Linked DNA regions of Homo sapiens: regions 1 and 3 are each linked to region 2. The links come from fine-mapping of genetic effects on gene expression. A gene starts in region 2. Each other region holds a variant in brackets. All regions are shown on one strand. Distances are between the middles of the regions. Region 1 overlaps UBP1 (upstream binding protein 1). Region 2 holds the start of UBP1 (upstream binding protein 1). Region 3 overlaps SUSD5 (sushi domain containing 5).

What was found.
Region 1: its variant is fine-mapped to the expression of UBP1 in whole blood (INTERVAL, PIP above 0.99).
Region 3: its variant is fine-mapped to the expression of UBP1 in whole blood (TOPMed, PIP above 0.99).

What each region holds. Positions count from the first base shown.
Region 1 is chr3:33,410,979-33,419,160 of GRCh38, forward strand. UBP1 (upstream binding protein 1) reads right to left here. Exons shown (of 16, transcript NM_014517.5): 3 at 5,780-5,856; 4 at 1,744-1,849; 5 at 603-709. It also overlaps a transcript of FBXL2 not described here and the pseudogene RNU7-110P. Among named protein-coding and RNA genes, the nearest start is that of UBP1, 25 kb to the right of the region's middle. The variant C/A (reference allele first, on the strand shown) is at 5,023.
Region 2 is chr3:33,436,245-33,444,426 of GRCh38, forward strand. It overlaps UBP1 (upstream binding protein 1), which reads right to left and starts at 4,161. Exons shown (of 16, transcript NM_014517.5): 1 at 3,492-4,161. The coding sequence starts at 3,604. RefSeq lists silencers at 2,073-2,367, 3,166-3,400, 3,320-3,369, 3,600-3,919, 3,970-4,079 and 1 more and enhancers at 3,619-4,118, 4,450-4,639, 4,850-5,139.
Region 3 is chr3:33,149,188-33,157,369 of GRCh38, forward strand. SUSD5 (sushi domain containing 5) reads right to left here. Exons shown (of 5, transcript NM_015551.2): 5 at 856-4,846. The coding sequence ends at 3,555. Among named protein-coding and RNA genes, the nearest start is that of CRTAP, 39 kb to the left of the region's middle. RefSeq lists an enhancer at 3,628-4,827. The variant T/C (reference allele first, on the strand shown) is at 3,459.

The DNA of each region.
Region 1 (8,182 bases), 25 kb before region 2:
ATGAGAAGAGCTTGAATCTGGGAGGCGGAGATTGCAGTGAGCCGAGATCATGCCACTGTATTCCAGCCTGGGTGACAGAATGAAACTCCATCTCAAAAAAAAAAAAAAAAAAGTGCTCCAAGAATAACTAAAAGGGGGCGGAAACTACTAAAAACTGCTAAAGCCAGGTGATGGTTACATGGACAATTAGTCATCATTATTATCCTATTTGTAGAGGTTTGAATTTTTCAGTATTAGAATGTTTTAAAAATAATGCTAGAAGGAATTTTAAAACCTCAATCTTTTTTCAATCGTATCCTTTTAAATAGCAGCTTGTGTTCAAGAGAAATACATCTCATGAAAAATAGACATTTTCATTATTGGGACTACTAGTGGTAAAAATAACATTTGAATAATGCTTTACATATCATAGAATGTCTTCATATATGTTAGTTTAAAATAGGGTGAACTTACTAGATTAAACCTAACTATGTATATAGAAAGACACTACAACATAGTTTATAAATAGACATTTAAAGGAAATGATACTGTATCAAAAATTCAATCCTACCATGACCTAAATAACTAGGTTAGTAAGCTTCTAATAATGTAAAAATCCAAACCTGAATGAAAGCAGAGGTGCGTTTTGCTGGGTCCCACAGAAATTCAACCGCATTTAACTGGCTTGGATTCGTCCTTGTGTCAATTATTCCCACAGACATTGGAATATCTATGTTTTAAAAAGAAGTTACATAAAAACATCCACTTTAAATAACTTAAAAAACTTACAACTTACTATATTATGTTCTAATGAAATAACTGTAACTGCTTTGAACTCTGTCTTTCAATGGTCTCCATGATCAACTTCTTCAACATCGAAACCCACCCTAAACGAATATCATCGTTTCCCCTACCATGGTTTGTATTTCATTTTTTTTAAGAATATGATAAGGCTGAGCGTGGTGGCTCACGTAATCCCAGCACTTTGGGAGGCCAAGGCAGGTGGATAACCCGAGGTCAGGAGTTTGAGACCAGCCTGGCGAACATGGTGAAACCCCGTCTCTACTAAAAATACAAAAATTAGCCAGACGCAGTGGCGCGTGCCTGTAGTCCCAGCTACTCAAAAGGCTGAGGCACAAGAATCACTTGAACCCAGGAGGCGGAGGTTGCAGTGAGCCAAGATCGCGCCACTGCACTCCAGCCTGGGCAACAGAGCGAAACTCCGTCTCAAAAAAAAAAAAAAAAAAAAGATAGATGGTTTACAATTAAACGGTTTCAAAATCATAAAATTCCAGGTTCACATTAGTTTAGCACCAAAAAGCTACTTGACGTTTTAACTATAAAACAACTCTCTCGGTTCTTTATAATACGAGGATGGGAAAAAAATAAAAAGAAAATAATGTATATACATACATACATATATATGTATGTGTGTGCGTATGTATATATAGAAAACAACTCTCAAGACACAAGATCCTAGAGGGGCATGGTGGCGCGCACCTGCAATCCTAGCTACTTGGGAGGCTAAGGCAGGAAAATCACTTGAAGACGGGAGGTAGAGGTTGCAGTGAGCCAAGACTGTGCCACTGCACTTATCCTGGGCGAGAGAGCAAGGCTCTGTCTCAAAAAAAAAAAAAAAAGACACAAAATCCACAAACACCAAAACTTTCCCCACACAAGTAATTCATGATGCCAACACAACACATTACTGGCTATAGCTAAACAATACCCTCATCTCCATGGTCTTTTGATCACTGCCTGTACCTAAATCAAGAAGTCTGTCTCCTGGGCGATTCCACTTCCATCCTTCAAGTTGCTGATGCTCTGTGTATTGTAGCCGTCTGTCATGGAATACAACCCTTATGATGCTCTGTGGAATAAGTGCGGAAAATGAGTACTTTTAAACTGCTCCAGCTAAAATGCAGGACCATTTCTACTTCTTATGTGTTAACCTGTAGCAGTAGAACACATACAACTAGATTCTGTTTTAAACATTCTGTAAGTGAACTCTTTTGCCCTTGGATACCTGGATTACGGTACAATTATTTGGTGCAAAGAATTATAACTCAAAAACTAAAATTATAAATAAAATGGTAACTTAGGTATTGATTTTATAAAATGATTTGTTATTGCAATTCAAAATTAAGGTTCTTCCCACTAAAATTAATGAGCAAGAATTACATTCCTATAAAGAAAATACCAGATGCACACAGGAGTTATTAAAAATGAAAAGATGGAGACAGAGAAACCCAGAAACAATGGTAAAACTTTGTTAATTTAAAATAACAGTTAACAATTGAGTCTTCTGGCTGGGTGCGGTGGCTCACACCTGTAATCCCAGCACTTTGGGAGGCTGAGGTGGGAGGATCACGAGGTCAGGGAGATTGGGACCATCCTGGCTAACACGGTGAAACCCCATCTCTACAAAAAATACAAAAAATTAGCCAGGCATGGTGGTGGGCGCCTGTAGTACCAGCTACTTGGGAGGCTGAGGCAGAAGAATGGTGTGAACCCGGGAGGCAGAGCTTGCAGTGAGCCAAGTTCGCACCACTGCACTCCAGCCTAGGTGACAGAGCGAGACTCCATCACAAAAAAAAAAAAAAAAAAACTTTGAGTTTTGAAAAAAAAGAACTGGCATAAAACAAAAATCCGAAACACTGCCCGCTGCCTTGAAAAAGTGAACTTAGGCCAGGTGCGGTGGGGCTCATGCCTGTAATCCCAGCAGCCAATTAAAAGCAATTTTTTTCTTTGAGATAAAGAGTACCATGTGGGAGACATTTATAGGGCTCAGTGGCTGCTTTATTCCCATCTTCCTTACCTGCACCCACACCTGCAGGGCCTGTCCAAGCAATTACCCAGCACCCACTTCACACCATCACCTGACCAGAGCAAAGCTCTCATAGTGATGGTGCATAGGCTAGTGGTGGCCCCTAAGACACCAATGCCAGTGGTTCACATCTGCTAGCCAGCTCGTCTCCAGAAAAAAGTACAGCACAGAAAATATCACAGTTCTAATTGTTCCATACTCAGTAAGAACCATACTAACTACACATATTCAGATGAAAACAGTATTAGAATACAGGTATTAGACTTCAGAGCTTTACTAAGCCCCATTCTAGAAGGTTGGACTAAAATACTAAAGATAAAAGGAGGACCAAAGTTAGGAAATTACAAGATATATAAGAAAAATTCTAGCATTATATAGCTTTTAGAATTTGTCTAGCAGGTTTTCCAGTTTCTACCAGAAACCCCTACCCAAAAAAGAACGGAAAGGAAAAAAGAAAGGAATGAAAAGGAAGGGAGGAAGGGAAAGAAAAAGAAAGAGAGGGAGGAGGGCGGGAGAGAGGAAAGGAACTTCTTATATGAAACAGGGAGAAAATCTCGTTATCTGAAAGTTCTCCCTAAAAGGAGATTGACTGCATTTTCAGAACTAGCAACATGTGATGGGGCCCTAACAATAAGACTAAAAGAAAAAAATAGGACAAAAAAAGACGAAAACAGAACAATCAGAGAAAGCACATTGCTAAATATGTTCAGCACATTCAAGAAGTTCCAAAGCACCTTCGCAAACCTATCACTTGATCCCCAAGGTTCCCCCACAAATTTAAGTAGTATAGTCAAAGATCCTAGGGCCAGGAAATAAAACTCTAGAAATTTGAAGCATATTTTAGGGATTCTCTAGCTAAAAAAAGGATGTAATTTCCAAGAAACTCATCCTGCAGTCTTTGGTAGTAGCAGACAGTAGCTCTTAATCCCAGACAAGCTTACAGAATATAACTGCATGCCTGGCACATCCACCAAAAATCACACAGCTGGCTTATCAAACAGAAGATGAAGCCAATGTAAAATGCTTTAAAAATGAACCCTTTTCAATCAGTGGGCTAAATATTTAGATACTGATGCCTTCAGAATAAGTAACCTTGTCTAGGTGGAATATACTAGTGTTATGTCAGCAAAACATTCACTGTGCATTTATAAGTTAATGGTTTTGCTACTAACAGTAGTTCATTACGTCATAATGAGGTGTCATTTTTCCCTTAATTTATTTGCTTGCATTAATTTTGTATATTAAATGTTTTTACATGTTTTAATTTGGAAGTAAATACAAGGAAGTTGAACTTAAAGCAGTCATACAACTTTACCCTGCCATCCCAAGTTAATCTGACAGGTATTTTAACCAGCTTGCCAAAATATTTTAAACATTAGGTATCACCTATCAGACTAATTATTTCTAAATCCTACCACCTATTCAGGGAACTGCCCTGGAAAGCCAGCTTGTCTCCACTGATAAATGACAAAGACAATTGCTTCAGAATTGATTTTCTTCAATGCCTTGATGGACACTGAATTTTGGCATTTGGTCTGGATGTCAAAGTTTGTTATATTTTCCTCAGAACACTGAATGGTCATGAATGAAGAACTGAGTTAAAATTACAAATTAGTAAATTCTATAATCCGGCATACACAAAAAAAGCACAAGGGGAATAGATGAAACAAGTCTGGCAAATTGTGGAGAATGTTGAAGTTGGCATGAGAACTTATGAGAACTCATGATATATACCAGATATATTTATTATATACCACCATATGATGGATATATGTGGATTCATTGTACCATTCTCTTTACTTCTGGGTATGTTCAAATTTTACCATAATAAAAAGTTAAAAAAATTGTTCTAACATTTTTGGATCCAGTTTTAAAGACCTCAGTATAGGGCCCATCAAATCCTACTAAATTTTATTATGGAGTTCACAATTAAAACAACTTTCCAACCCTTTTACACTGATACATTAACAAAAAAAAAAACACAGAACAAAGAAAGACAAAAACAGAACAATCAGAGAAAGCACATTGCTGAATATGTTCTGCACATTCAAGAAGTTCCAAAGCACCTTTGGTAACCCATCATTTGATCCCTAAGTAACCTTCCAGGTGCCCTCCAGGTACTGGGCAGCTGGCTTTCCCATACATGCCAAATTAGTTAACACACCAAATTTAGATTGCCTGAATCCAATTCCCACCACAAGGCTGCCCTTCCCATG[C/A]TTACCCACTAAAAAGGCAGATCCACAGAGGGCAGGTCTTTCCAATAGAATGCCCCTCCACACTGAGGGCCCAGCAGCACCTGGGCCCTGACATGCCACTCTGTGGGAAGATGGAAGGATCAAGAGAACTTGTCTCTTGCTAACACTTAGTTAGCCACATGAGGTTTTACCTTTCCCCAATTAAGATTCTTTCATTAACCCTGCCCTGTAATGCTATGGAATTTATAACTAGCCATGATGTATGATGGATACAGGCTAGGAGGGGCCAGGGGGCAGGGATGGTTCTGAGGATACATCCTAAAAGAACAGGTTAGCTGGAAAACAGCTATGCCTCCTATACCTAGGATGACTGACTTCTTCATTCAGATACATGAGTAGGGTGAACAGAGATTTCTATTTTTTAAATGAAACTTTACAAGGTAAAGGATTTTTTAAAGTTTTATGCCAACATTGACATTCTTCCCCATATTATCTTTTACTTTTAGAGAGGCTTATAGGTTTTTGTTGTGGTGATGAGTTTTTTACCCCATAACTACAACTAACTTTTCTATTGCTCCTTGATTTCCAAGGGTCTTTCAAAATTACTCTACCCAATAACTGCTATAATTCCCATTTTACAGGTGAATAAACAAAATATAGCTCATAAAGTTAAAAAGTTGTAATACAACAATTATTGAAGTGAAATTAATTTTTTTTTAAACAAAAACTCATTCAATCACAGCAATATCCATTGGGAATTAAAATGGACTGTCCTTACCTTTACTAATTTTCCATTGATCTCAGGCATATCACCCATTTTCCGATTATCCAGCATCCGAATTTCATATGACTGACCTATTTAAAGAAATTGTGTATAAAAAACAATCCTTATAAAGAACATCACTTTGCTTAACATAATTCAAAATGCATGTTTCTCAGAACATACATTACACAATGATAGTTTGTTAATTTGCTACGGAAGCAAATTCAGGTTGATCCTTCTCTTCCCTGAAAATCACACCAACCTTCTGTTCTAACATTATTACAGGAGACAAGAGTTTCTCTGTCAATTTATCTTCATCTGCCACTCTCTTACACTAAACTTTTATTATGCTTGCATTACCTAAGACTAATTTTTGTAACAGCTTTTCTGAGATATAGTTTACATACCATAAAATTCACATTTTTAAAAAGTGTGTAAATCATTGGTTTTCAGTATAGTCAGAGTTGTGCAACCATCACCACTACCAGTTTTAGAACACTCGCATCATCCTAAGAAGAAACCTCTATTAGTCACTTCCCATCCCTCCCCCACCCCCCACCTGGCCAACTGCTAGCGATCACCAATCCACTTTCTGCCTCTACGATTTGCCCACTCTGGATACTTTCATAAACAGAATCATACAATATGTGGGTATTTGTGCCTTGCTTTTTAAACTTAGCATAATGTTTTCAAGGTTCACCCATATGTAGTATATATCAGTCCTTTTTATTGCCAAATAATATTCATTCCTTTTTATTGCCTAATACTATTCCACTGTGTAAAGACTAAACCAAATTTTGTTTATCCATTCATCAGCTGATGGATATTTGGGTTGTTTCCACTTTTAGTGTTTATTAGAAAACACAGATATTCACACATCAATCTAGATAATTAGGAAAATGCTGCTGTAAAAAAATTAATAATGTACTCCAAATCCACAAAAAATGATTTCTGGATTATCTGTTATTAAATAATAAAAATGACAGTATAATTTGGCATGCAGAAAATCAGTAAAAATTAAAGAATGCTTATAATATCACATGAAGTTGAGAATCTTTATAACTACCAACACCTTGTCCATACTCCCAGGGGGCTTACAGAAAAATATACAAAGGATTCTAGATTATAGGGTCAAAATTCAACAAGGGGTTATCAAAATACAACTACATCACTCCAAGGCTGGTGAAGGAAAACAGCATATATATAGTCTGTTACAAAGAAAAGTTGCTTACATTCATTCAACAGACAGAGAAACACTAAAAAACACCTGTATGGGAAGAGACATTTTTAAAAAGTTAAACTAAGACACAGATTGGAAGAAGATATATGCACTATATTTAACAATGGATCTATATTCTGAAAACAGAAATAATTTTCAAAATGAAGAATATAAAGTTTTGAAAAATACACCATTTATGTTTAAAATTACACTCAACCTCACAAGAATTTAGGAAATAAAAATCAACAAAAGGTTTATGCTGATTATCAGATCAATAAGAAACATTAATTTTTATTTATTTATTTATTTTGACAGGGAGCTTCGTTCTGTCGCCCAGGCTGGAATGCAGTGGCGCAATCTCGGCTCACTGCAACCTCCACCTCCCAGGTTCAAGCAATTCTCCCTGCCTTGGACTCCTGAGTACCTGGGATTACAGGTGCCCGCCACCACGCCCAGCTAATTTTTGTATTATTTTTTAGTAGAGACAGGGTTTCGCCATGTTGGCCAGGCAAGTCTTGAACTCCTGACCTCGGGTGATTCACCCGCCTCAGCCTCCCAAAATGCTGGGATTACAGGCGTGAGCCACCGCACCCGGCCATAAGAAGTATTTAATTAGGCTGCGCGCAGTGGCTCACGCTTGTAATCCCAGCACTTTGGGAGCCCGAGGCGGGCAGATCACCTGAGGTTGGGAGTTCGAGACCAGCCTGACCAACATGGAGAAACCTCATCTCTACTAAAAATACAAAAATTAGCTGGGCGTGGTGGTGCATGCCTGTAATCCCAGCTACTTGGGAAGCTGAGGCAGAAGAATCGCTTGAACCTGGGAGGCGGAGGTTGCAGTAAGCTGAGATTGCACCGCTGCACTACAGCCCAGGCAACAAGAACGAAACTCTGTCTCCAAAAAAAAAAAAAAAAAAAAAAAATTGCTAACAAATGTCCAGTATCCCTAGAAGAAAAAAATGAGCAAATGAAATGGACATGTGGGTTCACAAAAGGAAATGCCAACAGTTCTTAAACATATTGAAAGACAACTTCCATTAGAGAAATGCAAATTAAAACCACACTGAAATCATTTTTCACCTATCAGAACAGTATAAATCCCTCAGTTTTCTGCTGTATTAGATGTAAAGTGTAACAGAAAGAAGAGTTGAGGATTACTCCTGATTTTTGATCAAGGAATTGAAGAAGAGTCACCATTT
Region 2 (8,182 bases):
TTATCACTGTGGTGAGAACATTAACATCCACCCTTTGCATTTTTCAAGAATACATTGTATCATTAACTACAGTAACCTTGTTGTACAATAGATTTCTTAAATAAACATTTTACCTTTCAATCAACATAGGAAATCTGTCATTAGCTCAAAGCAGTTTTGATTTAGCAAATTATTTGTAAACTATGGATGTACCTCCCATTTCAAAATACATAATGTATATCTTTTGTTTCAAGAGATTTATACCACAGCGAAGTTTAACAAACAGGGCTCAGACAATACCTTTTTTAAAGTAATAATTTAATATCAAAATTTTTAAAAGAGTAAGCTATACAAGCCATTACTTCCTATAACCTTCAAAAATATTTCAATATTGAGCCCCCAAATCCTAAAAATTAACTTGGCTACAGATGATAAATTTCATACAGTGAGATGGAAAGAAAATTACCAGGTGGTCCAAAGACCCTCTTTGAGTTTTAATGAGTATTATTTTTTAAAGTCATTTGGTTATCTACTCCATACTTCACAAAACGAGAATGACCCAGATTTCAAGTTACCATGAGTTTCAGTCTTCACTCTGTGTGGGGGAAAAATCAGCCTTCATCTGTTTAAGCCAATCACTTTAACATCTATGACCCTCAGATAATGCATTTACAGTATAAGAAAAGGAGTGGTCTAGACTCTAAAAGGTTTCTAAGGAAGGTCTCTATCCATCTCTAAAATCCTGTTACTGTAACCAAGATTTTTAAAAACATTTATGACCTGCCTCATTTCAAATAGAATCTGCTGCAGTTCACATCTCACATCCAAATATAACCACCAAAAAAGACTAAACAAAAACAACAACAAAAAAGTATAATACAACAGCACACACAGAACACATGAGAACCAGAGCCAAAAGAAAAAGAGAAGCAAAGGTAATGTTAGTAATTAGCCCCAATATATTCCCAATATTACCAGCCTACATTATTTTACACAAACATATTTTTCCTACTGTTTTAAGAGAAAGGGGTGGGGGGAAACAACAAAAGAGAAGGGGGTCTCATTCTTGCCCAGGCTGGAATGCAGTGGCTATTAACAGGTGCAATCATAGCACACACTACACCCCTGAACCTCTGGGCTCAAGCAATCTCCCACGTAGCTAGGTCTACAAGCATACCAAACATCACACCTGCCTAATTTTAAGTCAGACCACTGACAGAAGCCATTTCTTCCTTTCAAACTATCCTCCCAAAAGATGAGGAAACCATTCCCTAAGAGAAGTCTTTTAAGAAATACCTCTTGTTTTAAGCCATCCAAAAAGCAAATACAGTAAGCATGTTTCATTTTGAAAGAAAAATAGAAAGCTGCCTACAAAATCAATTTGTATCAAGAAGTCATTTTTCCAGTAATTTCTTCAAGTTTACTTCTTGAACTTTGAAAGATAAGCTTTCCTTCCCACTGGATGCCAGAGGAAGTGACTGAATGCTCAAGCTGGCCATTCATAGGCACTCCAACCCTCTCAGGGCTCCAGGGCCAGGCATGGAAAGTACAACTGCAGTCCAGGGAGGCCTGCAGCAGCTAACGCCTTCTTCAGATTTTCTCCTTATCGAGTCAATTTTGGAATTTCCTTAGTTTGAGAATTTCAAACAAAGGGCCTTGAATTTGCAAGAGGCAAGCACTCTCATCTCTTAGTTTTTGAGGACTCAATTAAATACGAAAAAAAAACCTTCTTAAAAATGGTAATTACCTTCAAACTTCTTTGAAAATTTAGATTAAATGACACAACCAAAAAAGAATTCAAGGGAAAATTATCCCTGTAAAGAGTACTGTAGGTTACACAGAATTACAAAGATCTCACACATTACTTTAAAAATACATGGTCAGGGAAAGGTTTAAAATCATCAAGATTGTACTTCCTTTTCATGGAAATAAACCATACACAGAAGTTATTACATTAATAAGTTGGCTGAATCACTAAATCAAAGTACAGGTCAAATAAAACCCTAGAAAAAAGTAAAAGCTCAAAATAGCTATCAATAAGTAAACTTTTCAGCAGCAAACTTTCATTTTACCATAAAAGAGAAGCAACTGAGGAGAGACACATATTGAACTTGCTTCACGTGCCTCCTTTGCCTTGACTATAAGCCTCGTGTTTCCAGTAGAGAGCTAAGGAGCAGAATGGCACTAGAGGAGTGCGTTTTCACTAGAGAAGCACTGCCTCTAATACTCCCCTCTGGGGTGACTCCATGACTTTCAGTAGCTCAATTTCCTCAACAACTGAAACAGCTGTTTTAGAAAATAAGCCAACTCATCTACAGGCCTTAAGTTATACAACTGCAGAGAGAAGAGGTGCCAAGTTCAGGAAGCCCAACAGAGACCAAATCAGAGCCAGACGCTGGGGAACTCCAGGTTTAATATGCCTTCCACTACTCACTTCCACACTCCAAGAAATGTCTCCAACCTTTCTGAGAGTTCTTTATGGCTCAGAATTTCTCCTTAAGATTTAAAGACCCAATTACTTCAAGGAGCAGCCACCAAGATTCCAGGCCAGCTTTAACCCAGAAGTCCTCCTCTAGAGCTGCAGTAAGATGTATGAATGCTACTGGGAAACTGTAGAGCACTTCCAAAACATCAGACATTTTCTAAAGAACAGAAAGCTACACTTAATTCACATTATTGAAAAGCTGCCAAACCACTGATTTTTAGACTTTATTAGTCAAGTCAACGCTATGGTAAACTATATTTCAATAAAGCCACTAAAAAAATACAGAGTTTCCAAATTCCTAACAGTTAAAAAGGATAAAGGGCGGAGACTAAGCTCAGATCTGTTTCAATCTCTCCATATTAAAATGAATGACTGCTGGTACAGACAGCAGAGACTAAACAATTATTTGTGGTGCAATCACTGCATCTTAAAACCCTCAAGAGGAAACAGCCTGAGAGGGTAGTCTCCAAAATGAGAAACTTCACTTTGAGACAATCAAAAGAACAAAACGAAGTCACAGTGCTACTCCCACCGCTGCTCTTTCAATTATAATTTACTAACATCAAGTGATTAAAATCTGCAGCCAGAAAAGATCATAATGTAGGACAACAAAGTAGGAACTGATCCCAAAACGCTAGACAGTATTCTCCCAATATAAGTGCTGCCTTTTCGTACAGTGTATTCTAGCTCCAATGGGACTTGTAAATCACTTATAAGGAAAAGAAGCCCCTTCCCCCACCAACCCAAGCCATCCTAATAGCTGGGCGTGTTTTACAGCAAATATGAAGCACTCAGGAGCGGTCCGAGGCCGACGCTTGCGGGGCCATCCTCCCCCACCCGCCCGTCACCAGGGCGAGCAGAGGCCTTTGGGGTTCCATGGCCCCCGACCGCCACGCGGCAGGACTCCGACCCCGCAGCCCAGGAGGCCCGCGCACCTCTGGGAGCAGCCGCATCTGGCAGAGACTCAGGGCTGCGCAGGCCTTCCCCAAGGAGACAGAGGCTTCTCCCCGCCCAGGGAGCCCAGTACCTCATGCTGTAAGCGCCGGCGCCCAGTTCCTGCCCGATGCCCGAGAGGCTGGCGTCGAAGTCGTGCACCAGCCCGGACTCGATCACCTCGTCCATCTTGAGCACCCAGGCCATCTTCCGGCCTCGCCGTCGCCCCGCACACCGCGGCCTCCGCGTCCAGGGCGAAGGAGCCGGAGCTCCGCTGGCGCGTCCTGGGGGAGGGCGCGGGTGAAGCCTCCGGAGGGGCGGCGAGTGGTCACCAGCGGCGGCCGGGACGAGAGCTGCGGGGGCCCCACTGGCAGGGCACGACGAGCCCAGCGAGCAATTGCAGCGGGAGCGGCCGGGCCGCCGGCAGCGCCACCCTCCCGCGGACACCGGCCCTGCGCCTCATGCCGGCGCCGCCGCCCAGCCCCCGCGCCGCTAGCGCTGCAGCCGCCGCCGACCGCCCCGCCCGGGGCCCCCCGGTCGCATCCTCCTCCGGGACCGCTGGGAGGCTGGACCTCGGGCCGCTCCGAGGACCACACGGGGGCAAGCCCTCCGCCCGCCCGTCACCCGCCCCCAAGCCTTGACTCCTTGCCCCCGGCCCGCCCAGGCTCTAGCGCCACACCGCCCCGGCCAACCCCGCCGACGCCGCTCTGCCGGCCGGACGCTGGCTTCAACGCGACTCCGACTTAGGTTCACGCGCCGCTTCCGCCTCCCCCGGCCCCGCCCCGACCCCGCCCCGGCGTTCGCCCCACGCCTCGGCCCTCCCCGTACAGCCCCGCGCTTAGGGCCACTCCCCGCGCCTCGCGGCCCAGGAACTGTCCAGAGAGTGCAATGCGGCCCCGCCCACGCGGCTGTTCCCAGCCGGGGTGGCCTCGCTGCGTCCCCGCACAGCAGCCCAGGAAGAGGCGGTGCCAAAAGGGCTGCCAGTTTCCGCCCCTTCTAGCGAGCGAGATGATTGACAGGCCAACTGAGCAATACCTGCAAGGGCTTGGACGAAGCTCCCGTGAGTCTCTGTGTCCCCCGACTAAACAACCAATCAAAATGTTCTTCACCTTGGGCGGGCTCGAAGACGGAATTTGTTGCCAAAAGAAAGAGTTCATTGGACTGCATGGTAGAAAGCGACCCAAAACGCCACTTCCGGAGGTGATTTGCTCCTCTGTGGTATTTCCCGGTCGTCTCTGCTTTATGCCCTCTCTACCGAGGGAGTGAGCGGTTTGCACCCCATCTGGTGACAGAAAAGCCAGTTGTGCAGAAAACCTTGATTGGCGTGAGAATAAGCCAATCAACGCTCCTGAGAAAGAGCTCTGGAAAGACTTCCCCTATTGGTTGCATTGCCGAGAGCAGCTTGGCTATCCTGAGTTGAACTAGCTGTTGGTCATCCTAAGGGCAGGCGGTCTCCTGAAGTTGGACCGAACCATTAGGACGTGCCACAGTAACAGCTACGCTGCTCAGAAGGCCCGAAGGGTCTTCCTCAGCGACCTAGCGTGGGCACGCGCCACTGCGGCCAAAAGACAGAAATCTTTTTACCGGAAGAGATGAAATAGAAAGCAGGAGCCAGAGGCTGACTTACAGAGCCAGTGTGCGGATCAGAGTTCCTTAGGAGCGGCTGCTGGCGCTTGACGGGCGGAATCCTTGCTGAAGAGAACGTCAAGGCCCGGGCTTCGCCCTGCATCGAACTTACTGCCTAAGAATAAGACCCAAATGCTGAGCGCCCCGCCCCAACTTGCCAGTTTAAGTGCAAAAATACATAGATTAAAATGTCAGCCTAATAAAGCAGTGGCACTGAGCCAGAAAAAAATAGTCTCAACGCCTGTGTGATTTAGATACTAACTTACAGGCTCACGCCTGTAATCCCAGCACTTCGGGAGGCCGAGGCGGGTGAATTAGTTGAGGTCAGGAGACCATCCCGGCCAACATGGTGAAACCCCGTCTCTACCAAAAATAACAAAAATTAGCTGGATGTGGTGGCGCGCCCATGTAATCCCAGCTACTCAGGAGGCTGAGGCGGGAGTAAGGCTTGAACCCGGGAGAAGACAGAGCAACACTCGGTCTCCAAAAAAAAAAACCACAAATTAACTTGGAGAATGTTTTTCTCTTTACACAACATTTTTGCAAACATTTCATTTGATAAAGCCATACTTTAGAGATGAGGTAATTCAGGTGAAAATGTGTAAAGATTACACAGTGCAAGGTCACACAGTAAGCAGGTAAACCGGGGCTATTTGACTAATCCAGATTTCTCTGATTCCAGGCGAAAACATTAGATTGGCCATCAGTTCAGGAAGCTCCATTCCACTATTACAAATAAATCTGCACAAACAATTGGATAGTCAAGGGAAACATTGGTCTCATTGGGGGTCTCAGATATGTCTTCATTCCATGATCTCACCTCACTTGCATAACCTAGTCTATAACCAGATTAGCCAGGCCTACTATTAGTTGTTGGAAAATTTGGAGAAATGGAATTGGGGGAAGATAATTCTCTGGTTTTTGGAGAGAGTGTAAAAGTACAAGCTACCATCAATTTTTCAATCAGGCTGTGCCCTAAGGAAGTACTGGGTCAAATATTTAGAAATTGAGCCTCAGGCTGGGCAGTGTCTCAGGCCTATGATCCCAGCGCTTTGGGAGACCAAGACTTAAAGCTTGGGAGGATGGCTTAAGGCCAGCAATTGGGAGACTAGCCTGGGCAACATGGCAAGATCCCGCTTCTACAAGAAAAAAAAAATTAGTTGAGCATGATGGCACGCTCCTGTAGTCCTAGCTACTTGAGAGAGACTGAGGCAGGAGGATCACTTGAGCCTGGGAGTTTGAGGCTACAGTAAGCTATGATTGTGCCACTGCACCCTAGCCCGGATGACAAGATGAGACCCTGTCCTTAGAAAAACAAACAACAACAACGAAAAACAAAAAACAAAAAAAAAATTAGAGTTCTGGAGGATAGAAATAAAAGTGTTGGCTGGTCATGGTTGCTCACAACTGTAATCCCAACATTTTGGGAGACCAAGAGGGGAGGATCTCTTGAGGCTAGGAATTTGAGACCAGCATGGGCAACAGAGCGAGACCCCTGCCTCTACAAAAGAAAAATTTTTTTTGAGACAGAGTCTTGCTTTGTTGCCCAGGCTGGAGTGCAGTGGTGCGATCTCAGCTCACTGCAAGCTGCGCCTCCGGGGTTCGCACCATTCTTCTGCCTCAGCCTCCCGAGTAGCTGGGACTACAGACGGCCGCCACCACACCAGGCTAATTTTTTGTATTTTTAATAGAGACAGGGTTTCACTGTGTTAGCCAGGATGGTCTCGATCTCCTGACCTCGTGATCTGCCTGCCTCAGCCTCCCAAAGTGCTGGAATTACAGGCATGAGCCACCGCTCCTGGCCAAAAAAATTTTTTTAATTAGCCAGACATGGTGACCTGCACCTGTGGTCCCAGCTACTCCAGAGGCTGAGGTGGGAGGATCACTTGAGACCAGGAGGTCAAGGCTTGCAGTGAGCCATGATAATGCCACTCTAGCCTGGGTGACAGATGAGACCCTGTCTGGAAAAAAAATAGAAGTATCAAGCAGCGCTAAATAGTAATGTCATAAAGAGACCAAAATATAAAAGAAGGATAGTGTTAAAAGAAAACTTTAGACAAATTAAATATAAGAGTTTAATTTTGCAAAAAAAAGATTTGTCAATCAGGTAGCCACCCCGAACCAGAATATGTTCAGAGAGACTCCAACACTGTTGCATGGTGGAAGAAGATTTATGGACAGAAAAAGGACAGTGATGTACGGAAAACAGAAGTGAGATATAAAAACAGCTTGATTGGTTGAGTGTATTATTTGAACAGTTGGCCTCCTGTAATTAGCCAAAACTCAGCGATTGTTATAATAGGTTATAGACCATTTATACATCCAGTTAGGTTACAATTTACTGTGTACAGAGAAACCTTTAGGCTGAACTTATAAGGAGGCAACTTTAGGCTAAACTCAATTTAACAATTTCTCCCCTTTTGTTCAACCTCTCAACTTGACCAAAATAGAGAGGTTGACCAAAATCCTAGACATTGACATTACTTTCTGACCATTGTAAATGTACTTATCTGGTCGCAAATCCCATTGGGAAATAGTACAACAGTGGGTTTTGTAAGGTGCGAATAAGGACTTTAGGTTATTTTCTGGTAAGCGTTAGAGTAGAGGATACTTTTTTTTTATTATGTTGGAATTTTTATTTATTTAAATTTTATGGACATTTTATGGATGATTGTATGTAAACATTTAAAACTTTTGAAAGTCCTTAGTGCACATAGGAGACTACTATTAAGATTACCAAGAGGATAATACCAAGACTTTGGAGTATGCCCCTTAGCCAGGGTCAACATGAACTAAACTAACTAAAATCAAATAGATCAAAGAAAGAGCTAGATAAAAGATCAAGCTGTTTTAACCAAGCAGCTTGTTTATTAATCCCCTGTAACTGAATCTCTATAATACCTGATATGTTCATCTCTGTGCAACAAGAAGTGTGAGCAACTGCAGATACTTCTCTGTATCTGCATACAGAGATACATACTTCTCTGTATGCAGATACAGAGAAGTATCTGCATACAGAGATACATACTTCTCTGTATCTCAGTAAGTAATATACAGCAATTCCGTTATCTAGCACAACTTTAGCAAGAGAACTTAAAGTCTGTTGTGCCATGGCCTTTGCAGTAGAGTCAGCTATAGAGTCTACTATGAGGGATAAAT
Region 3 (8,182 bases), 290 kb before region 2:
TTTCCCCACACCTTTGTGAACAGTCCCTTCAGCTAACCCTCTAATTACTCCTTTGAGTGTCCTGTGAGTTAGGAGAAAGGGGATAATCAGTTCTCTCTTAGGCCAGTGCTTCTCAAGCTTTACCATTCATGCCCACCACCTGGGCATCCTGTTAGATGCAGATCCTGATTCAGCAGTCCTGGGGCAGGGCCTGAGATTCTGTACTTCTAACAAGCTCGCAGTGCCTGTGCTGCTGGGGCAGGAGCCACACTTTGAATAGCGAGGTCCCGGGTGTTTCGTTGCAGTGAAGTAAGTGGTCTCTGGTTGGGGCAAGGAAGAGGGAAGTAGGGGGGGGCGGGGCAAGGAAGAGGGAAGTAGGGAGGGAGGGGGGGGCAAGAGTGCCACCAACTTCCCTAAAATCCTGCTGCAGGAGGTAACATAACTGAGAGTTAGGTTTAGAAAGGGCAGTCTTAGATCTTAGATATAGCAAGTATTAAGACATTATTTTCAAGATTACTAGAGATTTTTTTTTTGAATGGAGCCTTGCTCTGTCCCCCACGCTGGAGTGCAGTGGCATGATCTCAGCTCACTGCAACCTCTGCCTCCCGGGTTCAAGCAATTCTCCTGCCTGATCCTCCTGGGTAGCTGGTACCACAAGCATGCTATCACGCCCGGCTAATTTTTGTATTTTTAGTACAGAAAAGATTTCACCATGTTGGCCAGGCTGGTCTCGAACTCATGACCTCAAGTGATCTGCCTACCTCAGCCTCCCAAAGTGCTGGGATTACCAGTGTGAGCCACTGTGCCCAGCGAGAATTTTTTTCTTTTTTTAAACCTTGGTGCAGTAGCCTAGAAATAAAATACATTCAGCAACTGTTGGGGCAATAATTATTTATTTTAAATATCTCAGAAGCTTTGTGTTAATAGAACCCCCTCCCCCAATTTTCATGAGCATTAAACATTCACCATTCTCAAAACATGCATGACATACAATTTAGATTTACATTGTTTTAATCATTCCCTTTCAACATGAATTTTTAGATTCTATAACATTAATTTAGAGGATACCACACCAATAAGAACTTAAAAACTGATGTGTTGGGTTTATTTCACAGTCCATGTCTACAAATAAAACATTTACCTGTATTAATAATTTGTAATAAATTTATTAATACACTGTATTAATAATTTGTAATAAATTTATTAATACACTGTATTAATATTGCCTATTTGTTGGTATAAATCCAATGTTCTGGGTTATTCCACAATAATAGTTGCTAACACAGTCCCAATGCTGAGACAGAGGTTATTTTATATAGTTAAAAATAGAAAAGTTATCTTGCAGTAGATTAGGATCTAATTTATAAATATATACAGTCTCTGGCTTTTATTCTATTATGTTTTGCTTTGGCTACATGCAGAAAGCATTTTATTCCTATTGTTCTTGACTTCGTCTGATGCACAGGTATTCTAGTTGGTACCTTCAGGCTTTATTTTACCCAACTATGGGGAATAAGATCTTTGATTATGCTGCCTCTCTTTACAGCTACTTCGCCTATTACTTTTCCAAAGCTTGCTGAAAAGAGGTGGCAGGGTAGAAAACATGTTGCGAATGTTTTTTTTCCTTAGGTAAAACACCACCAACAATTTTTCAATCATAAAAAAGATCAGGATTTCCCTCTACCACACAAAAACACTTAGACTGCTATGGTGTCTCAAAATAAATGTGTTGCATTCATCACTTTTTACCACTGATAACTATTTCTAAGAAGGTGATTCATATTAGAAAAATATAACATGTTTCATTTCTGTGCCAACATACAGGAGACTATTGCAGGTGGCATTTAGGCAGCTTCAAATGCCACCTCAGCTGCACACAGCCATGCCTGACTTCCACACAACACACACCACATACTCATCTGTGCCTTTAGGGCTTCAGCTGGCCTCGAAGTTCACATTTGAGATTATTATAAACCAACAGGCTCTCAAACTTGAGTGCATATCAAAATCACCTGGAGGGCTTGTTAAAAACAGAACTGGGCCCTACTCCCAGGGTTCCTGTTTCCTGAGTCCAGGGTGGGACTAGAGAATTTGCATCTCCAACAAATTCCCAGGTGACGCTGATGCTACTGGTCTGAGGACCACACTTTGAGAACCACTGCCATAAACCATCCTCGCTGAGCCACCCTAAGATGATTTAGATGCTACGAAATGGGTTACCCAACAGACAGGATGGATTCTGTTTCCACAGAGCTCCCAGTTTCCACACTAGAGAACAGATCAGCACAGATCATTTCATATTCTTTCACAGATTCTTCTGCTTCTCCATCAAGTATGTGCCCATACTTGATAACCTGGTGTTCGGCCCTCTGAAAACATTTCTTTTTTTTTTCTCCCGTGTCATTCTCTCTTACTGGAGTTCAGAGAAATGGTTAATCCTGAGAGAGGAAACCAAGGACTGAGTTTTGTTAGTCCTGGCAAAAATTCCAAGACATTCCTAGGCACAGACTGGTCAAGGACAACTAGGCCACTGCTTCTGAGAGGAAATGGTACTTACTGGTACAAAGCTAACTTTGTTTTTAAAAAATAATGGCAAATCCTTAACCATGAAATATTGAAAATAAAATAAAATAAATGACAGACTGTCCCACAGAATGGAGGGAACAGAGGGGGATGTGTGTTTCTTCACTCCTCAACTCCCCCAACAAAATGTCAGTCTTAAATTCTAATTTCAAGAAACAATGAAAAAAGAAACCTCAAAGCTTCTAGACTGTGTCCTGGCTCTTGGTTCATCTGCCCTCAGCAACATCACAACATTAAAAGGAAACAACCCATTATTCTTCCATATTCCTCTCCCAATAATTCAATATCCATGTCCTAGATAATACTGCTCTCATACACTTGGTTTATCATGACTATTTATAAAATTTCAGGGCATGAAGCTGGTGATTTTCTTTCTTCAAAAAGGTAATACTGTGATGTGGCTCACACCTGGAATCCTAGCACTTTGGGAGGCTAAGGAGGGCAGATCACTTGAGGTCAGGAGTTCTTGACCAGCCTGGCCAACATGGTGAAACTCCATCTCTACTAAAAATATAAAAAAATTAGCTGGGCATGGTGGTGCATGCCTGTAATCCCACCTACTTGGGAGGCTGAGGCAGGAGAATTGCTTGAACTTGGGAGGCAGAGGTTGCAGTGAGCTCAGATCGGGACACTGCACTCCAGCCTGGGCAACAGCATGAGACTCTGTCTCAAAAAAAAAAAGATAATACTGTGATGAAGGAAGAGGCGATTTTTGACCTCACACTGGAAACAGGGCCCAAGCACAGGTCTGGGATTAGTGTAGTCAATTCCAGGGCAGATGGTGGAGGAGACATTGACATGAGTGATGATGTCACCAAAGCCTCCCTGCCCTCCCAGGTGCTCCAGAGACACTTCTCAGCCTATAAAACAAAGGGCTGAGGAAAAAATGATGAGCC[T/C]CAGTCCACCTGCGTCATGCTCTAGTGAATTATCGTGTGATGTGTCACAGTTATTTTCCTCCCAAGTGGCTTTGGGAGAACCCACTCCAAAGGTGCCTAGACCTTCTCCATCTCGATCTGCTGGTGGTAGTGCCGAGCCTGCCGCTGGCCAACATTCAGCTTGTACACAGAGCTCTTGTGCTGGCACTTGCGGTAGCCCCACACCATCCCCACACCTGCCAGGAGCAGCAGTAGGCACAGGACGGTGACAATGGTGGCGATCACAGGGCCTCTGCTGAGGCCAGGACATCCGTCCCCCACACACGACTCCAAGGTGGGATGAAGCTCCTCACTTGCACCTGGCCCGGGGCCTTCCTGTCCAAAGAAGTCTTCAGACAGCAGGTATGGGAAGCTATCCTGGATCTCAGGAACAGTGGTTTCTACTGGAGGCTGGGTGGTTGCCATGATCGTTGAGGGGATGTGGTTAGGTGTCTGCTTGACAGTGTTCACTGTTAATATCTCCAGGGTGGAGCTGGTGAGCTCATAGGACAGGGTGGCCATGGGAGATTCCTCTGTGATGAATCTCCAGGGTAGAGTTGACTGGTACTTCGTCAAGTCACCATCCCCAATGCCCTCAGTCTCGGAAGCATTCACGGGTCTGAGCGCCAAAGCTTCCACATCTAGCATTTGAGATGGAAGAACTGAACTATGGGTCATGCCCTCGCTTGGTGTGAGGGTGCTACTCTTGGGCTTCTTAACTTCCACAAGAATGGGCTGATCAGGAGTAACTAGGACGTTTTCATCCAGCCCTACTGACCCATCCCCTCTGTCCCCATCTTCTTCCTCTTCTGCCTCTGTCTTCCTCCAAGCCCCCTCTGTCACAGGGTAGCCATCTAACCAGGACTCATCACTGCTGCTCACCACTGGATCTCCTGCCTTGCTGTCATTCTTGCCCACAAATGGCCCCGAGGGACCATCAGTGTTGCCGTAGATCACCTTGGTTTCAGGTTCACCTGGGACCAATTTTACACCACTGTGGTTGTCTCCAGCAGAAAACTGCTTTTTGGTGTCATCATCCACCTCCTTTTCCAACCCAGGCTTGTGGAAAGCCTCAGCAGGAAACCAGAACAAGTGCTTCTGGAGCAGCCGTGATCCTGGTGAATCTGCGGGGACACTGCTCCCAGCACCAGGCAAGCCTGTGGTTGGCACAAAGACTTTATCCCGGGCTATGTTTTCTCTCCCCACAGAAATGGAGACCAGACGGTCCTGTTTTGGAGCCTCCTCAGAGGAGTCTCCCTGACCCCTGTCCTCATCTGCCTCTGTCCGGGAATCCTCCATGAGCTCTCTGAATGACACAGATCTGTCATCAGGGAAGTTATCTTCATAGTCAATGTGTGCCTCAGCCTCATCTGGAAGAAAAGAGGGAAAAAACCTCATTAGCTCCAAAGGCACAGAGCCAGTATAGAACATAAGAAAAGGAAATTAAAAGCATAAAGGCTGGGACAGAATAAATAATACTGTTATTATTCACAGATGATATGACTGTGTATCATAGATAAACCCAAATAATCTACATATGAATATTACAAGTAACTAAAATTTAACATCTGAGCTTAGGCCGGGCATGGTGGCTCACACTTGTAATCCCAGCACTTTGGGAGGCCTAGGCAGGTGGATCACTTGAAGCCAGGAGTTCGAGACCAGCCTGGCCAACATGGCGAATGCCCATCTCTAATAAAATACAAAAAAATAGCCAGGCATGGTGGCATATGCCTGTAATCCCAGCTACTCAGGAGGATGAGACATGAGAATCGCTTGAACCCGGAAGGCGGACGTTGCAGTGAGCCAACATCGTACCACTGCACTCCAGCCTGGGTGACAGAGTGAGACTCAAAAACAACAACAACAAAAACAACAACTCAAAAACAACAACAACAAAAAACATGTGAGTTTATTAGGGATACTAGGTCTACAGTAAATATAAACATCAATTGTATTTCTAAATATTGTCAATAAACAGAAAATTAAAATTTAAAAGGATGCTATTTACAATAACATTAAAAAAACCAAACACATAGGAATAAATCTAACAAAAGATGTTCAAGACTTCTACATGGAATGATATAAGACATTGCTAAGCAAAATTAAAGAAGACTTAAATGAATGGAGGAATAGACCATGATCATGTAGTAGAAGGCTCAAGATCATTAAGTTGGCAATTCTGTCCAAATCGATCTATACAGATCTAATACAATTCCAATAAAAATCTCAGACATTAACTGAATGTTAAAGTTTATGGAAATGCAATGGATGGAAGTTTATGGAAATGCAATGTAAGAATAGACAAGGCGATATTGAAAAAGAAAAAGCCGGAAGACATATGCAAAACATTTCAAGATTTACTATAAAACTGCATTACCTTTTAAGGCTGTGGTATTGGCACAAGGACAGATAACTGGATTACATTAAAATGAAGATCCTCTGTTCATTAAAAGCTACCACAAAGAGAGTTAAAATGCAAGGCAGAGTTAGAGAAGCTATCTGCAACACATATGACCTCCAAAGGGCTTGTATCCAGAATTTAAAAAGGACTCCCACAAATCTATACTAAGTAGACAGACAAACCATAGAAAAATTGGCAAGATAGTTGACTTGGGACATCACCAGAAAGATATCAGATTAGTCATTAAACATGTGGAAAGATGCTCAACCTCACTAGTAAGAGAGAAATGTTAATTATAGTCATAATGAGATACCACTGCATAGCACCAGAATGGCTAAAATTAAACAGACCGACAATATCAAATGTTAACTAGGATATACAGCACTGTTAGTGGGAGTGTGAACTGGAACAACCACGATGGAAAACTGGGCATCTCTACTAAAATTGAACATATGGATGCTCCATGACACAGCAATTCCACTCCTAAATATATACACTTAACAGTAATGTGTGCATATGGGTACCAAAAGACACGCCTAAGAATGTTCATAATAGTAAAAAACTGGAAGCAATTCAAATGTCCATTAACTGGTACATCAGTTATGGTATACTCAATGCAAATCTGTACATCAATAAACATGAACCAACCACTGCTTCCCACAACAAAATAGATGAATTGCATGGCCATAATGTTGAGCCAGGCACAAAAGTGCACACTCTGTGTTGATTCTATTTATATAAAGTTTAAAAACAGGCAGAATTAATCTATGGATGTCGGAACTCAGGATGGTAGTTACACTTGGGTAGGAGAGAAGGGGTGATGACTGGGTATGGTACAAACAGGACTTTTAGGGTGCTGGCAATATTCGATTTCTTCACCTGTGTCAAGGCCTAAATATCAGTGTTTATTCTTGATAATTCATTGGTTTGTTGCCTTATGATTCGTATGTATTTTATAATTAAGTTCAAAAATGCATCTTTTTTTTTTTTTGAGAGAGAGTCTCGCTCTGTCTCCTAGGCTAGAGTGCAATGGTGCAATCTAGGCTCACTGCAACCTCCGCCTCCCGGGTTCAAGCGATTCTCCTGCCTCGGCCTCCTGAGTAGCTAGGATTACAGGTGCACACCACCACACCCAGCTAATTTTGGTATTTTCAGTAGAGACAGGGTTTCACCATGTTGGCCAGGCTGGTGTCAAATTCCTGACCTTGTGATCCGCCCATCTCGGCCTCCCAAAGTGCTGGGATTACAGGCATGAGTCACCGCGCCCGGCCCCCAAATGCATCTTTTAAAACACTGATTTGCTCTCTGTAAAACTTCCAAGTCATGAGATGATGCTGTAAAGTATTCTGAATTCAACTGAATAAGAAGCAATAGAGCCCCACAACTAGGAGACCAGAATGTAAGGACAGCCCGATGAGAGGGGAATCAACTGGTCAGGAAAGCTCAAGAAGCTGGTGTCCTCAGAAGACAGCAGCAGCCCTTTGACCTTCCCCTCTCTCAATGGTCTTTGAAAGCCAAGTCCTACTGGAAGATACACTTAAATTATTAAAACAGACTGCTTCTCCCACTTAACTTTCAACTTCGGAAGAACAAAATGCACAGAGCTCCAGAGCCAAGGTCTAGATGGAATGCTGAGGTGTCATGTGGTGCATTCCTGGGCTCTGAAACTAGATTAGTGGGTATCTGGCTTATTTCTAAAGGCTGTTAGAGAATAAGACTCTGTATCTTGCTTATTTAATGACTGACAGAGTTATAAATAAAAGTTAACAATCTTTTCTGATCTGCTCCTGACATGTAAGCCCATTCACTTTACATGTGTCCTCAGTCAGAAAAGGGAAACAGTGGATGAAGAGCAAACATCACTGACAAATATCAAATGCATGCGTGTTTTATGCTTAGAAAAGGACAGCCCAATCACACCCCATTGTGTCCTGTTCATAAAACCTCACACAAAAAACATATCAGATGGCTGGACCATTCTAATGAGCCTTGTAGAATTCACATACAGGCTCCCAGGGCTCAGTCAGGCCCTTCACATTCCCTGTTATATCCTCATTTCAAAACCTGCACTGACCCACTCCTTCATTCAACAGACCTCACTGAGTGCTGACTATGTGCTAGAGTTTGGGATCACTGGTGAACAGGATAAATACTCCCTCCCCCGTTGGAGCATATGGGACAGAATCTCATGGTCTTGCATCCTATAGGGTTGAACTTCAAAGATTTTGTGTGCATAAATTTTCACCCAACATTCTGAATGGGCGTTAGGTTTTGCATTGAAGTACTGTCCTTCCTTCAAAAA